Linked DNA regions of Homo sapiens. The protein of the gene in region 5 purifies or fractionates together with the protein of the main gene of each other region. This does not show direct contact. Each region holds a gene or a part of one and is shown on either strand. Other genes may lie near its edges.

Region 1 (2,657 bases), on a different chromosome or scaffold from region 5:
GCCATGGTGCTAGGTTTTTGGGCCTCTGGGAGATTTCTGCAAGAAACAAAGAAAGGTTGCAAAGCATGGCCTTAGATGCTAGAATGCGACTTGTGTGGCTCTGATTCGGGGTTCTTTGTTTCCTTGTCCTAGGTATTCCTGGAGTGGAGAGCCACTCTTTTTGACCTGCCCTACATCAGAAGTCACCGAGCTCCCAGCCTGCAGCCAGTGTGGAGGCCAAAGGATATTTGAGTTTCAGCTTATGCCAGCACTGGTCAGCATGCTCAAGAGTGCTAATTTAGGTGAGAAGCCCTTTATTAATTTGAGTTTGTGGATTTCTGGCATTATTTTTAAATAAATGAAAAACCTTTTGTTTACTTATAAAATATCATAAGCAAATTACAGAAAATTTGGGAATTAAAAAATTATTTTAAGAAATTTAGGCCAGGTGTGGTGGCTCATGCCTGTAATCCCAGCACTTTGGGAGGCCAAGGCGGGTGGATCACAAGGTCAGGAGATCGAGGCCATCCTGGCCAATGTGGTGAAACCCTGTCTCTACTATAATATAAAAAATTAGCTGGGCGTGGTGGCACGTGCCTGTAGTCCCAGCTCCTTGGGAGGTTGAGGCAGGGAATCGCTTGAACCCAGGAGGTAGAGGTTGCAGTGAGCCAAGATCGCACCACTCTACTCCAGCCTGGCGACAGAGTGAGGAGACTCTGTCTCAAAAAAAAAAAAAGAAATTTATAATCCAGCCAGTCTTTTTTTTTTTTTTTTAATATTTATTGATTGATTTATTTATTGAGATGGAGTCTCTCTCTGTCGCCCAGGCTGGAGTGCAGTGGCACGTTCTTGGCTCACTGCAACCTCCAGCTCCCGGGGTCTAGCAATTCCCCTCCCTCAGCCTCCCTAGTAGCTGGGATTACAGGTGCCCGCCACCACGCCCGGCTAGTTTTTGTATTTTTAGTAGTGATAGGGTTTCACTGTGTTGGCCAGGATGGAATTTTTGTATTTTTTGTAGAGACAAGGTTGCGTCATGTTGCCCAGGCTGGTCTCGAACTCCTAGACTCAAGCGATCCTCCCGCCTTGGCCTCCCAAAGTGATTACAAGCATGAACCATGCCTGGCCAGAAATTAAAACTATTATCAATGTTAATAACCATTATTCCAACAATCATTTTTGACATAAAGACAAATAGCAAGTCAGATGAATGTATGGATGGCTAGACGAAAATAATTTTCCTAAAATAGGAAAATTCACTAATATGGTAATTAAAAGTCTTAGAACAAATTTTTGTACAAATTAACAGAAGGAATGTTAAGTATAAGTGAAGCAGTTACTGGATTTTTTTTTTTTTCCTTCTTTTTTCTTGAGACGGAGTCTTGCTCTGTCGCCCAGGCTGGAGTGCAGTGGCATAATCTCAGCTCACTGCAAGCTCCGCCTCCCGGGTTCATGCCATTCTCCTGCCTCAGCCTCCCAAGGAGCTGGGACTACAGGCGCCCGCAACCAAGCCCAGCTAATTTTTTTTTGTATTTTTAGTAGAGACGGGGTTTCACTGTGTTAGCCAGGATGGTGTTGATCTCCTGACCTTGTGATCCGCCCACCTCAGCCTCCCAAAGTGCTGGGATTACAGGCGTGAGCTGCCACGCCTGGCCTGGACTTTTGGTAATAGGTTCTTTACCTAAGAGGCCCAAGTTTCTGAAAGGTGCTTCTGCTATTAACAGAAAATAACATTCTTTCTGTGTTTCAGTTTTAGATAGTATGCATCTGGCTCCTTACCATAGTAGATAAGGAAATTTATACCCTATTCCTACCTTGAAATATTTCAGTATCTTTTTTGTTTTTTGAGACGGAGTTTCACCCAGGTTGGAGTGCAATGGTGCTATCTCGGCTCACTGCAACCTCTGCCTCCCAGGTTCAAGTGATTCTCCTGCCTCAGCCTCCTGAGTAGCTGGGATTACAGGTGCCCACCACCACACCCAGCTAATTTTTTATATTTTTGGTAGAAACAGGTTTCACTGTTGTTGGCCAGGCTGGTCTCAAACTCCTGACCTCAAGCTCCCGACCTGCCTCGGCATCCCAAAGTGCTTGGATTATAGGCATGAGCCACCGTGCCTGGACCCAGTATCTTTTTTTTTTTTTTTTTTTTTGAGATGGAGCCTCACTCTGTCGCCCAGCCTGGAGTACAGTGGCACTATCTCGGCTCATTGCAACCTCTGCCTCCCAGGTTCAAGCGATTCTCCTGCCTCAGCCTCTTGAGTAGCTGGGATTACAGGCGCCCACCACCACGCCCTGCTAATGTTGTATTTTTAATAGAGACGGGGTTTCGCCATGTTGGCTGGTCTTGAACTCCTGACCTCAAGTGATCCGTCCACCTCGACCTCCCAAAGTGCTGGGATTTACAGGCATGAGCCACCGCGCCTGGCCAGTATCATAATTATCACAGCTATTTGGATAGCCTTAGTTCTATGTGTAAATGGATTCAGTGTTTATCACCACTCTTAGAGTGAGCTTTTTTATTCCTGTTTTATTTTGATTCTTTTTGCAGTAGCTGGATTTTCTCAAGTAATAGCTTTAAGGAGGGCTCAGAGGTATCTTGCTTCAGATTGTGCATGGTAATGTGGCTTCATATTTGAGGGGCAACCCATGTATAAAATTTTTAAATCCCACTTTCTCTTTTC
Region 2 (3,522 bases), about 140 Mb from region 5:
TTTTTTTTTTTTTTCTGTTCCTTCCCAGCAAATCCCTCTTACTTTGCCTGTCTCTGTCTGGGCATCTCTTTGTTACAAGTTTTGTTTTCCTGCATCTCTGGTTACTTTAAGATATATAAGTGCAAGGATTAAGATAACCCTGTTGTAAATATCCAGATGCCTCTCTTCATTCTTGGGCCTTATGTATTTCCAGTGGACTTGGCTACCTCATGGGGTTAGCTGCATATATATAGTTCATGGGTAAGAACCAAAGGTGGAGGTTTGGCCTAATGGGCAAATATTCTTTAATCTGTCCCCACGTGGGCCTCTCCATACACATGTATCCTGGTTCACTGAACAGATGAAAAAGCAGGAATGAGTCGAAATCATATAATCACCCCTCCCACCCTAAAGGGAAAGTCAGGTTGAAATCCAGCTCTTTCAACAGTGGACGCTTATTCTGAAATAGCCTTCTATGGCTTTCAGATCTGTAGAACAACTCAAGTCATGGTCCTCTGTGAAAACTGTTTGGATAAGTTCATTCGCTTCACAGGGGGAAATTGCTTAGAATTAGAGAACTTTTAAAGAATAGAGAAACTAATGTTTCATTGGTAAAACAAAATTCCATATTTCTAAATAGCATGGTTTGAGAACCTCAAGCAGGAATTATTTTGGCAGGTTAGAATCCATGTCCATATATATTATAGCATTTTAGATTTAAAGGGCTCTTTTGGAAATAATACAGACATGCCAAAAGCGTGCTATGTTAAAATTTGGGGTACAGGGCTTCTCAGGTTCCCAGTTGGGTTTTTAAAACCATTCTTAAAATACAGAAGTAAAGAGAAACTGGCCCAAGCACAGTGACTCACGCCTGTAATGCCAACACTTTGGGAGGCTGAGGTGGGAAGATTGCTTGAGTCCAGGATTTTGAGGCCACCCGTGGCAACATTAAGACCCCATCTCTACCAAAAAAAAAAAAAAAAAAAAAAAAAAAAAAAAAAAAAAAGGTGCCCTGTGGTGGTGGTCTCCTTTAATACACATTTCCCAAGCTAATCCTTTTGCGGTTTGTTGTTGTTGTTGTTGTTGTTTTGAGACGGAGTTTCGCTCTTATTGCCCAGGCTGGACTGCAGTGGCACGATCTCGGCTCACTGCAACCTCCGTCTCCTGGGTTCAAGCGATTCTCCTGCCTCAGCCTCCCAAGTAGCTGGGATTACAGCCACCTGCCACCACGCTCGGCTAGTTTTGTATTTTTAGTACAGAGAAGGTCTCACTATGTTGGCCAGACTGGTTTTGAACTCCTGACCTCAGGTGGTCCACCCATCTTGGCCTCCCAAAGCATGAGCCACTGTGCTGGGCCCCAAACTAATTCTTTAAGAATATGAATCTGTCATGTCACTCCCCTACTGAAAGCTGTGGTTGTGAAATGCTGAGCCTGTGCCCACAGCAGGACCTTTGCTGTTTCCTTTGCTGAGATAGCTCTCCCTATGGCCTTTTGCCTAGTCTCAACCTGTAGGTCTGAACTTGTGAAAGGCACTGTCCCTCAGTGCTCTTTGTCTGTATCAGGGCCCCTAGACACTGTCTTTCACATCCTTTTTCTACTTTTTAACACCTATCACTATCTGACATGATCCTTATTTCTTCGTTTGCTTTTGAATACTGCTTTTCTAAACTACAACTCTGTGTGAGCAAGGACCATATTTTATATTTTCTGTGGGTTACTGCAGTACCTCCAATGCCTGGCAAAGTGTAGGTGCTCAGTACACTCCTTTGTCAAATGGCTGTTTTTGGTTTTGGTGGTGGGATCTTGCTATTTTTTTAAGGTGGGATCTTGCTGTATTACCCAGGCTGGAGTGCAGTGGTTATTCACAGACACAGTCATGGCACACTACAGACTCAGCCTCCTAGGCTCAAGTGATTCTTCCACCTCAGCTTCCCGAGTAGCTGGGATTACAGGTGCACAGCACTGTGCCCAGCTCTAGATGGCTGTTTTTAACTTTTATTTTTTTTAATTTATAGCTTACAGAAAAGTTGCAGTAATAGTAACTCCATATATTCCTTCTCCAGATTTACTGATTATGTACGTTTTGTCCCAATTATTATTATTATTATTATTATTATTATTATTATTATTATTATTTTGAGACGGAGTCTCGCCCTGTTCCCTAGGTTGGAGTGCAATGGTGTGATCTCTACTCACTGCAACCTCCGCCTCTCGGGTTCAAGCGATTCTCCCCACATCAGCTTCCCAAATAGCTGGGATTACAGGCACCTGTTACCACACTTGGTTAATTTTTGTTATTTTTAGTAGAGACAGGGTTTTGCCATGTTGGCCAGACTGGTCTCAAACTCCTGACCTCAGGTGATCTGCCTGCTTCATCCTCCCAAAGTGCTGGGATTAGAGGCATGAGGCGTGCGTGTATGTGTGTGTGTGTGTATGTATGTATGTATGTATGTGTATATATGTTTGTGATCTGAGAGTGAGTTGGCATATTGGAAACACAATGCCTTTACCCCTAATCACATTACAATTACAGAAATCAGGAAATTTGATTTTGATACAGTACTAGCATCTACTCCTCAGTCCATAATCAAGGTTCAACAATTGTCCCAACAGTGCTTTTCATAGCTAGCCACTCCCTCCAGTCCAGAGTCACTAATTACATATAGTTGTCCTGTTTCTAGTAACTATCCTCTGTAACCCAGAACAGTTCTTCAGGTTTTTTGGTCCATTTTGATTTTGCTGCTTTTGAAGAAAGACAGATGTCTTTTGTAGACCATCCCACAATATGTGTTTGTCTGATGCTTCCTTGTGATTAGTTGTGGCTTATGTGGTATTTTCTGTGCTTGGCTCTAAGCCTCTGTGTCTTTCTCCACTCTTGCTTTTCCCTCCAGGTAGAAAAGATCCGCCAGGTGAAAGCCAAGTCTCTGTACCTGCAGGTGGAGAAGCTGCGGCAAAACCTCAACAAGCTTGAGAGCACCATCAGTGCCGTGCAGCAGGTCCTGGAGGAGGGTAGAGCGCTAGACATCCTACTGGCCCGAGACCGGATGCTGGCCCAGGTGCAGGAGCTGAAGACCGTGCGGAGCCTCCTGCAGCCCCAGGAAGACGACCGAGTCATGTTCACACCCCCCGATCAGGCACTGTACCTTGCCATCAAGTCTTTTGGCTTTGTTAGCAGCGGGGCCTTTGCCCCACTCACCAAGGCCACAGGCGATGGCCTCAAGCGTGCCCTCCAGGGTAAGGTGGCCTCCTTCACAGTCATTGGTTATGACCACGATGGTGAGCCCCGCCTCTCAGGAGGCGACCTGATGTCGGCTGTGGTCCTGGGCCCTGATGGCAACCTGTTTGGTGCAGAGGTGAGTGATCAGCAGAATGGGACATACGTGGTGAGTTACCGACCCCAGCTGGAGGGTGAGCACCTGGTATCTGTGACACTGTGCAACCAGCACATTGAGAACAGCCCTTTCAAGGTGGTGGTCAAGTCAGGCCGCAGCTACGTGGGCATTGGGCTCCCGGGCCTGAGCTTCGGCAGTGAGGGTGACAGC
Region 3 (3,522 bases), on a different chromosome or scaffold from region 5:
GGCAGGAGAATCGCTTGAACTTGGGAGGTGGAGGTTGCAGTGAGCCAAGATCGCACCACTGCACTCCAGCTTGGGCAAGAGTGAGACTTTGTCTCAAAAAATAAATAAATAAATAAATAAATAAATAAATAAAAAGGTGAGACCAATTTAAAAAAATGAAGCCCAAGGCAGTAAATAATTTTATACTTTTTTTTTCCCAGGAATGGTGGTTAGGTAAAAAAATATGCTAAGATAAATATGGATCCTAATCACAACCATCCATGCTTATAACCAACCTGTGCAGGTTTTACCTTCATTTGCCTTAAGCATACCTGCCCATTTGCCTTCTTCCTATTATTTTCAAATGTAATATGAACTTATAAGTATTTTATGTGTCACCTTAATATTTAATTCTTTTGCCACTAGACTTGGCTTGAGAGGGAGACGGCATTTATTTTTCTGAAAAAAGGACTGTACTCGTTCCATACTTCTTTGGAGAACAACCTATAGAAAGAGATGTGATACTGTAAGTACATAATGAAAATGAAGATCTATTTTTCAGACAAGTTATGCTGTGGATACAATTTATAAAATGCCCAGTTGTCAAACGGTGAAAAAAAGGTTGTTACTAAAGAGAGTTAATTTTTACTATAAAACTAGAATGGCCAAAGGCTATAAATATAGTGGGCAAAGGTACATTTGGCCAACCAATGTATACGAAAATGTTAAAGCTCACTAATAGTCAAAGAAATAGAAGCCAAACAAAAATGAATGCAGTTTTTCACCTATCAGATGAAAATTTAAAACAACATCCTGTGTTAGGAAACGATTTCATAACTTATTGGTAGGGAGAGAGGTGTACACAGGTGTAGCTTCTTTTGTAGAGCAATGTAACAACTATTATAACTAAAAATACATGTCGCTCTTGACTCAGCTATTTCACCTGTAGGAATTTTCTGAAAGAAATACTAGCAAAGAAATAAAAATGTACACACCAACCAAAGTTCATTGCAGTATTGTTTAGTAAAGAGAAAACAGGTAAACAATGTATATAGAGGTAATAGTTTATAATTAAGATTGTATGTAATATTTCCCCAAATTAATCTATAATTCTTATCAAAATTCCAACTGCCTTTTTGCAGCAATGGATACACGGTTCCTAAAATTCATATGAAATTGCAAGTGTCCCCTGAATAGCCAAAAATAATAATGAAAAAGAACAAAGTAGGAGGACTTACATTGTCCAATTTCAAAACTTACTATAAAACTATGGTAATTAAAAAAAGTATAGGCTGGGTGGATGGCTCATATCTATAATCCTAGGACTTTGGGAGGCCAAAATGGGAGGACTGCTTGAGCCCAGGAGTTCAAGACCAGCCTGGGAAACATGGCAAAACCCTGTCCCTACAAGAAAAAAAAAAAAAAAAAAAAAAGACAGGCATGGTGGCAAACACCTGTGGTCCCAGCTACTTGGGAGGCTGAAGCGAGAAGATCACTTGAGCCCAGGAGGCTGAGGCTGTGGTGAATTGTGATCACACCACTGCACTCCAGCCTGGGCAACAGAGAGACCTCATCTCAAGGAAAAAAAGGAAAAAAAAAAAAAAAACAAATATAGCATATGGATAGACATATATGATATAGAATTGAGAGTCTAGAAAAAAACCCATATATGTGGTCAACTTTTTTATTTAAAAATTTTTAACAGAACACTTCACGAATTTGCATGTCATCGTAGTGTAGGGGGCATGCTAATCTTCTCTGTATCATTCCAATTTTAGTATATGTGTTACCGAAGCAAGCACAGGGTCAACTGATTTTTGACAAGTACGCCAAAACCATTCAAGAGGAAGGAGGGGGTCTCTTTAACAAATGGTGCTAAGACAACTGGATAACCTCATTCAAAAGAATAAAGTTGGGCCTCTACTTCATACCACAACGGATCAAAGACCTAAACATAAGAGCTAAAACTAGAAAAGCTTAGAAGAAAACACAGGTGTACATCTTTATGGCATTAGATTTAATGATGGATTCTTAGATATGACACTAAAAGCATGAGCCACAAAAGAAAAAAATAGATAAACTGGACTTCATCAAACTTAAACATTTTTGTATTAATATATTAAAGGACACTATTAAGGAATTAAAAAGACAACTGCAGAATGAAAAAAATATTTGCAAATAGTGTATGTGATAAAGGTCTAGTATCCAAAATATATAAATAACTCTTACAACTCAACAACAAAAAAGACATTCCAATTTAAAATGGACAAAGGACTTTGAATAGATATTTCTCCAAAGAATACAAATGGCCAATAAACATATGAGAATGTGCTCAATATCATTAGTCACTAGGGAAATTCAACTCAAAACCACAACGAGATACTGCTTCACACCCACTAGAATGGCCATAATCAAAAAACAGGAAAAAAAACAATGTTGGTGAGGATGTGGTGAAACTGGAACCCTTCTATATTGCTGGTGGGAATGTAAAGTGATATAGCTGCTACAGACAATAATTCTATGATTCCCCAAAAAGTTAAGCACAGAACTACCATATGACCTAGCTCTGCCATTCCTAAGTGGAAACAGTTGTTTAAACACAAATTTATACATGAATATTCATAGCAGTATTCTTTTTTTTTTTTTGAGACAGAGTCTTGCTCTGTCGCCCAGGCTGGAGTATAGTGGCTCGATCTCGGTTCACTGCAAGCTCCGCCTCCCGGGTTCACGCCATTCTCCTGCCTCAGCCTCCCGAGCAGCTGGGACTGCAGGCGCCCGCCACCATGCCTGGCTAATTTTTTGTATTTTTAGTAGAGACGGGGTTTCACCATGTTAACCAGGATGGTCTCGATCTCCTGACCTCGTGATCTGCCCGCCTGGGCCTCCCAAAGTGCTGGGATTACAGGCATGAGCCACCACGCCTGGCCAGCAGTATTATTATTAATAGTCAAAAAGTGGAAACAACCCAAATGTCCACCAACTGATGAATGTTTAAACCAAATGTGGTATATCCACACAATGGAATATTATTCAACCAAAAATGGCATGTAGTACACATGCTAGAACACAGATGAACTCTGAAAACTTTATGCTAAGTGAAAGAAACTAGACAGAAAAGTCCATGAAGTGTCCAGAATATCCATATAGAAGTATAGACGTATCCATATTGACAGAAAACAGTTTAGTGGCTGGGAGGGGAAAATGGGGACATGCTTTCTTTTTGGTGTGATGAAAATACTGTGGACTTTGATAGTGGAGGTAAAGGAATTCAAGAAAACAATTTTCATCAGAAAGGAATAAATAAGCATGGAAATAAATAAGCATGGGAAAATCACTGATTTTAATAGGTTGTGAAATATGTTCCTATATATTTTAAACAATCTTTGAATTTATCTGCCCCAAATAGCATGGGTATAGTTAGAGTTCTACTGGGAGTCTACCAATAAAGAATAGCAACTTAATTAGTCAGCACCATAAAGATCCTTCCTTTAACATTAACACATTTATATTACCTTTTATGGGTACATACCTGTCTGGCTGATC
Region 4 (3,522 bases), on a different chromosome or scaffold from region 5:
CCAGCACTTTGAACCATACTCAGAAAGGTTAATTTAAAAACTTTTCCCCTCGAGACACATATTACCCCAATGCATTAAAAAAAAAACTATTAAATACTTCCTTTTTCATATGATATTCAGAAATGAGCAATATCTCTAGCCAGGAACAGTCAAGCTCAGTTAAATCAACAAAACCATCATCACTCTTATTACTATCAGTAAATCCAGGCACAAATCAGGTAATTCCGTCTTTTTTAAAAAAATAAATAACTGAATTTCTTTTAAAACAATAAACAATCATAGACCACACACAGACAGCATTTGATGCTGTCACCACATTTTAACTGTTTAAAACTATTTTTTTTCAGCAAGGTACAGAAGAATGACTCTTGCACCCTCTTCTCTTTCCCATTTTATTTTCCTTTGCTTCAGAGGTATGTCAAAGGATGCATAATAAATACAACTATGCCAATGAAACTGAAGTGTCAATTACATACCTGTAAACTATATTTATCTTTTCTGCCAACTATTTAACTTAGGGTGAAAAAGCAGACCTGCTCAGAATCACCCAAACAGTTTTTAGGAATCATTTCTTTGATGTTTCTTTGTTTAGTTTAACCAAGTATTCTCAACCAAATCAGGCTCCATTGTGTAGACTGCAGATGGGATAGTGGGTGGGTAGGGGGAGTGTTTTGAGCCTTTTGTTTTAAGAAATAAACACGTGATGCCTCTCAACTGGGATGATGGCAGTGGGGAGAGAAGAGTGTTAATATAGGCGGAGGCCAGGAGAGGGAGGTGGAGAATATTACACTACAGTCACTTAATGAACCAAAAAGTGAAAAGAATTTCCAAAATGGTATCTACCATCATGGACTCCTGAATTATGGCGTTCTGAGTTTCTCCTTCACATATATTCTATTTCTCAGATGAGGACTGCAACTATCTCTTGGAAAAAAGCTCTGTGGCTTATGAGACATTCAAAGCAAGACCTGGCTTAGATGATCAGAGCTCATTGTCATGCTTAGCAAAATCTTTGCAAATTCAGCAGCAACCTCTGGAGCATACAGAGGCCCCTGGAACTTCATTCTGAAGCTCTAGCCTCTAGGCAGCCAGGTCTTCACCTGCCAAGTCAGCAGGACAGCCCCACTATGGGGTGTGTGTGTTGGTAAAGAAGGGGTACCAAGCTGGCTTCCACAAAGCACTAGAGAATATGCAGGAGATGGTAGCTGAGGCAGGACAAAAGCATTCGCCTTTATTCTAATAATCTTAAGGTATCAAAGCAAATACATATTTTTCTTCTTCAAGATTTAATTTCTCGTGGTTTGGATGATCATAATTAGACCTCTGGAAATCGCCACTATAGAGCCATACATACAGACACACATAAACAGTTCTATATGACTGTCTAGTCCTGTTCTAAACATGGGAACAAACTCCCCAAAAAGAGACAGAGCTGCCCTCTCCTGACCTCCCCCCCTCCAGAAGCATTCCTTATTCGTGGTCTTTTTTGTTTGTTTGTTTGTTTGTTTGTGGTTACCTGGACGTCTTCCATTCCGGGATGGCCGAGGCCGTGCAGCGAGAGGCTGTCACCCATGCCCGCGTCCAGGCCGTGGTGCGCCGAATGCAGCAGCACGTCCGGCCGGCGGACCGAGTGGTAGTCCCTCCGGGGGTCAAGGCCCGAGAGCTGGGGCAAGGCGGCCCGAGGCTGGGGCAGGAGAGAGCCGGCTTCCGAACCCACTTCTTGCCGCTGCCGTTGCCCCCAGGGATGTTGCTGGGGCTGGTGCAGTGGGTTCAGGGAGTAGGGGTCGTTGACGTGGGAGTAGGGGTCCTGGCTCTGGTGGTAGGGGAGCGGCTGGTAGGGGGGTGGGAAGTAGGGCGGCTGGAAGTCCGACGACGGGGTGTGGGACAGCGGCGGGGCGCTCGAGTAGGGTCCTTGGGACACCGAGCCCAGCTGGGAGAGCCGCGAGCTGTGGCTCGGGACACCATCGTGCCGGTCCTGGGAGCGGAGAGAGGAAGGGGAAGAGAGCCAGAGAAGGAGACAGAGAAAGAGAGATAGAGGCAGAGAGAGACAGAGAGTACAGAGAGGAAGAAAAAAAATACAAGTGACAAATGGAGAAGCCCGGCTTTTGTACGCTCTTCCCGGGACAAGGGAAGCAAGGATCTGAAACTTAGACCCCCAAGTTGACTCAGAGGGCCACATGATTTCAGCAATTTCAAACCCCAGGCTTGGGGAGAAAATGGGAAAGGAATCACCCACTTAACTATAACATTTTAGCCGCTTTTTGGGGAGTGCAAAGCAGGCAAAAGGCAGGGGTACAGGAACAGTGTGTATGGAGGGAGATTCTAAATGCCTTAATTAAAATTGTAGGAGTCTTACATATGGTGTTTGCTCCTCTGGGTGTTTTTAACTACTTTTTTCTAACTCTTCCAGAGGTACAAATCACAACAAATAAAACTTCATAGTATTTGCTGTGCTGCTCCCCCTGATTAAAAACCAACTTCTGCCTTCGCTGGAAATGCAGCTGGCTGATTAGGAGGAGCTTTCCACACAACCTGATCATTCCAAGAGCTCCAAGGAATCCACCTGGTCTGAGTTCCCAGTCACTCCTCCCTCTCCAGGAGAAATTAAATAACTTAAATAGTGTTTCATTGAAATGGATCTCATTCGAAATCATATCCTAAGCCAATGATGAATTAAGTTGAGTTGTGGTTCATAGGAGTTATTTCTAAGACTGTTTTTCTATATCTAATGCTGTTATACTCAGGATGTGAAAATGAAGGAACTAAAGTTGGGGTGGGGGGAAATAAAAGCCCAGACAACTTATTCCTGGTCCTATCTGGAGTGTGAACTAAGTGAAAGAAGAAGGGGGAGGTGTGTATATGAGGGAGGTGGACTTTGTTTCTCCCTCTCTTCTCTGGAAACATCATGGTAAACTCCCCATGGTTCTTTTTGCAGAAATAGTCACCTAAATTTCCAAACAGCAATGGCAAATAAAAAGTTTTTCTTTTCGGCCTCTCCCCTCCCAGCTGACTCATGGAGCTCAGACGGAGAACACACAATGCAGAGAGAAGCAGCTGCAGCCTCGTCCAATTATGGTGCTAAATTACCAAGCCAAAGGCGCTCAAAGGAAGACAGAGAGAGACAGAGAGTGTGAGACACACACACACACAGAGACGCAGAGACAGAGAGACAGTGAGAGGAGGGAGCATGCAATTCTGGTAACACGTGAATCCAAACTCACCATGGATGAATAGGTGTGGACTAACATCTGGAAAAAAAAGCCTGGTTACTGCTCAAAATCAAACAATGATTAAAAAAAAAATCAAGGAGTCCAGCAGAGAAGCGAGCTGGACACAGGAGCTGAGCTTGATGTGTTTCCAGGACAAGCCATCAAAAAAAAAAAAAAAAAATTACACCCGCCCCCCACCCCAACAAGATTGGCGATGCCTGTCACACACAGACAGAACTATTCATCTGTCTCTTTGCTGTCTTTTTGGCCTCTTTTCTTCTGCCGTTCTTCGGGGCTCCAGATGCAGTCCTCT
Region 5 (3,522 bases):
TTAGAAGATAGGAACAAAGGGCTTTTTAGAGGTCAAGGCATGATGGGAGAGGTCTAAGAGCCAGTCTTAGAGAATTAAGGTATTTCTGAGATAGTGATTTTGTTCTATGTTTTGCTCCAATATGATGATTGTCACTGAGTCAAAGGTCCTCACAAACCCTGTAATAATGTCTAAAATTCTGGAAATAATATACATATGACTCAAAAGATGAAATAGAAATGCAGTGGTGTCACCTAAAATACCTTTTAAAATAATTCAGTTTATAGAATTATTTGCTAGTTATAGTTCACACCAGCAACTGAATTAAGTCACACAACAATCAGAAAAAATGCATATACTTAAAATAACTTAACTTAAATAATAATATTCATATAAAGTAATGCTGCTTCCATGATTCACTTTAATTCACTTTAGGAAAAAAAGGACATAAAATTAACAAAAATTCCAAATCAATTTAAGGAATTCTCAGTTTTTGTTTAATAAATACATTAATGTCAAAAAATCTACTTAGAAATGGTTGGAAAGGGGCTGGGTGTGGTGGCTCATGCCTGTAATCCCAGCACTTTGGGAGGCTGAGGCAGGTGGATCACCTGAGGTCAGGAGTTCAAGACCAGCCTAGACAACATGGTGAAACCCCATCTCTACTAAAATACACAAAAAAGTAGCTGGGCGTGGTGGCATGCACCTGTAGTCCCAGCTACTTGGGAGGCTGAGGCAGGAGAATTGCTTGAACTCGGGAGGCAGAGGTTGCAGTGAGCCGAGATTGCACCACTGCACTCCAGCCTGGCTGATGGAGTGAGACTCAGTCTCAAAAAAAAAAAAAAAAAAAAGGAAGTTGGAAAGGAGTATTTACTGATAAATATTACTATTTATTCAACATAGTTGGAAAACAAGCATTGCATAGTATCATGTAAAGCAGATCACTCCCTTTAAACGTTGGGGGCAAAGTTAAAAGCAAAAACAACTGAGAAACAACTTTTCATTTTTATGCTGACTTACAAAGTCCTCACATAAAAACTTATAGATTTAATCAACCCTCTTTGCCACTGTCTTTTGTGTCTTCCTTATAATCTTACTTGCTAACTAACTTTCACCCAACAGTTCAGTGCCCTTCTGCCAACCATAAGAAGGGACTAAAACCACCATATAAGGTTACATCAAGTTTGCCAACAATTTGGTAAATAGTATGACCAAAGTAATCACATGGTTGCATGTGGCCACCAAAATAACTGACAGTTTTTGATAACATGATTTTTGTTTAAGGATTTGTGTTTGCCCTACACAGGCTGAAAGTGCAACAATTCCAATATATAATCAGTTCATTTTATATTAAATCTGTAATTAATGCAGAGCAGTTCAACTTAAATATGGTACTTCAATACCACTTTATGCTACATTGTTTGATTTAAAACCCTGGTTTATCATCTAACTAAAACACAGGAATGATTTGCTCAGACAAATCACATCTGCTGAAGCTATCTTGTTTGTTTCTTGGACTGACATACTGAAAACCACAGGAATATTATAGGAAACATATCTACAAAATTCAAAAAAAATTATACATATTGATAATTTTTTAAAAATTATCAATTGCTTGCAAAACTAACCCAGCACAATCTGAAAACAATTAAAAAAAGAAATGAGGTTGCTTATGAAGGCTATAGCTTTGGTGACAACTTAGAACCAAATTAGATCTGCAGTTGATTCAGACATAAACAGTGTTCATGCCTGATGTTTCCGTTTATTTGCAGGGTTTTATGGCTACAGCATATTCTTCACTCATTGCACACATGACAGACACCTAGAAGGAAAAAAGCAGGCAAAACGTTATTCAGAAGACAATACATATAGAAGATATAATTAGTTCCTCATATATTGTATATTTGTGGATATTTTGTACATATGGACTTCTGAAAGGGGTATTCCAAAACAAGCTACTTTCTTTACAGTTTTCTAAAGCAGAATTTCTCAGAGTGGTTTGTAAGACAACTTCCAGGGAACAGGAAAAATAACTATAAATGTTTGAACACTTACTACCCGTTACATTTCTGAAAGTTGTAACGAAGACAGTAAATCTCCTTCACTCTTTAACATTCCACTAGCATCATTTCTTACCTGTAAGAATAGCTCAGGGCTGGGCGCCTTGCTCAGGCCTGTAATCCCAGCACTTTTGGGAGGCCAAGGTTGGGGGATCACCTGAGGTCAGGAGTTCAAAACCAGCTTGGCCAACATGCTGAAACCCAATCTTTACTAAAAATACAAAAATTAGCCAGATGTGGTGGCACGCGCCTGCAATCCCAGCTACTCAGGAGGCTGAGGGGAGAATCGCTTGAACCTGGGACGCGGAGGTTGCAATGAGCCGAGATCACGCCACTGCACTCCAGCCTGGGTGACAGAGGGAGACTCCGTCTCAAAAAAAAAAAAAAAGTCAGGTGCAGAGCTTCAAAACAAATTTGGGTTTGAGAGTAATGCTGATGTAGCAAAAATGAACTTTGATACTTTCTTTGATAATGAGTCTCTAAGGGTTTTATGGAAAACCTGCCTGAGAGATCATTTTCAACATTTTAGCAGTATTTTTAAACCACATTCCATATGTAGTATTTTATGTTAACTAGTTGAGGTCAAAGTTTTTATAAAATGGTTTTCAAAAATAATCCTTCTCTAAGTCTTTACCTGTACATCTTCACCTGCATTGTATTTTCCCTCTATTTCTTTGCCTAGTTCACCTTCTGGCAGTTTAAGATCCTCACGAACTTCACCAGTTTCTGTCAGCAGGGAAAGGTAACCATCTTGAATGCATATCAGCTATTAGAAGAAATTATATCATTTGTGCTGATTAGATTATATCCACTTCTGTGTAATGCTTACATAGTTAAATTGCAATTGATATTAATTCATATAAGTATACAGTAATATATTAATATTCTTGGTATTTAAAATGCTAAAAATATAAAAAATATAAAATATGTACAGAATGGAAATATAAGTTTACTCCTCCCGGTACTTCCCATACCCAATCTCTGCCTTGTTAAACAGTTTAGGTTTCTTTATAGTGTATTCCATTTATGTTCACAAAATAAATATAGTTGCTGTTTTGTTTTTTTTTTTAATCAAAATGGGATATTGGGCCAAGTGCGGTGGCTCACGCCTGTAATCCCAGCACTTTGGGAGGCCGAGGCGGGCGGATCATGAGGTCAGGAGATTGAGACCATCCTGGCTAACACGGTGAAACCCCATCTCTACTAAAAATACAAAAAATTAGCCAGGTGTGGTGGCAGACACCTGTAGTCCCATCTACTTGGGAGGCTGAGGCAGGAGAATGGCGTGAACCCAGGAGGTGGAGCTTGCGGTGAGCCAAGATCGTGCCCCTGCACTCCAGCCTGGGCGACAGAGCGAGACTCTGTCTCAAAAAAAAAAAAAAAAAAAAAAGAGATATTATAAGTACTTTACAGTGAGCTGTTTTGACTTAATAATATGTCTTATAAATACTTTCTAAGCAGAAAATGTAAACCTACCTTAGTT

Evidence for each region.
Region 1: the proteins of EIF5A2 (region 5) and PDCD2L purify together in Homo sapiens (affinity purification with mass spectrometry; one large-scale study listed by BioGRID and IntAct). This does not show direct contact.
Region 2: the proteins of EIF5A2 (region 5) and TRIM71 purify together in Homo sapiens (affinity purification with western blotting, with the first as the bait; one study listed by BioGRID). This does not show direct contact.
Region 3: the proteins of EIF5A2 (region 5) and PIK3C2A purify together in Homo sapiens (affinity purification with mass spectrometry; one large-scale study listed by BioGRID and IntAct). This does not show direct contact.
Region 4: the proteins of EIF5A2 (region 5) and TFAP2B purify together in Homo sapiens (affinity purification with mass spectrometry; one large-scale study listed by BioGRID and IntAct). This does not show direct contact.

What each region holds. Positions count from the first base shown.
Region 1 is NC_000019.10:34,421,387-34,424,043, forward strand, and holds part of PDCD2L (programmed cell death protein 2-like), read left to right. Parts: intron 1-132; coding exon 133-281; intron 282-2,657. UniProt on the Homo sapiens protein: Over-expression suppresses AP1, CREB, NFAT, and NF-kB transcriptional activation, and delays cell cycle progression at S phase.
Region 2 is NC_000003.12:32,887,489-32,891,010, forward strand, and holds part of TRIM71 (E3 ubiquitin-protein ligase TRIM71), read left to right. Parts: intron 1-2,871; coding exon 2,872-3,522.
Region 3 is NC_000011.10:17,113,983-17,117,504, forward strand, and holds part of PIK3C2A (phosphatidylinositol 4-phosphate 3-kinase C2 domain-containing subunit alpha), read right to left. Parts: coding exon 3,509-3,522; intron 484-3,508; coding exon 379-483; intron 1-378.
Region 4 is NC_000006.12:50,821,860-50,825,381, reverse strand, and holds part of TFAP2B (transcription factor AP-2-beta), read right to left. Parts: intron 3,249-3,522; coding exon of another isoform or gene 3,222-3,248; intron 1,976-3,221; coding exon 1,517-1,975; intron 1-1,516.
Region 5 is NC_000003.12:170,891,619-170,895,140, forward strand, and holds part of EIF5A2 (eukaryotic translation initiation factor 5A-2), read right to left. Parts: intron 2,806-3,522; coding exon 2,674-2,805; intron 1,802-2,673; coding exon 1,742-1,801; 3' UTR 1-1,741. UniProt on the Homo sapiens protein: Translation factor that promotes translation elongation and termination, particularly upon ribosome stalling at specific amino acid sequence contexts.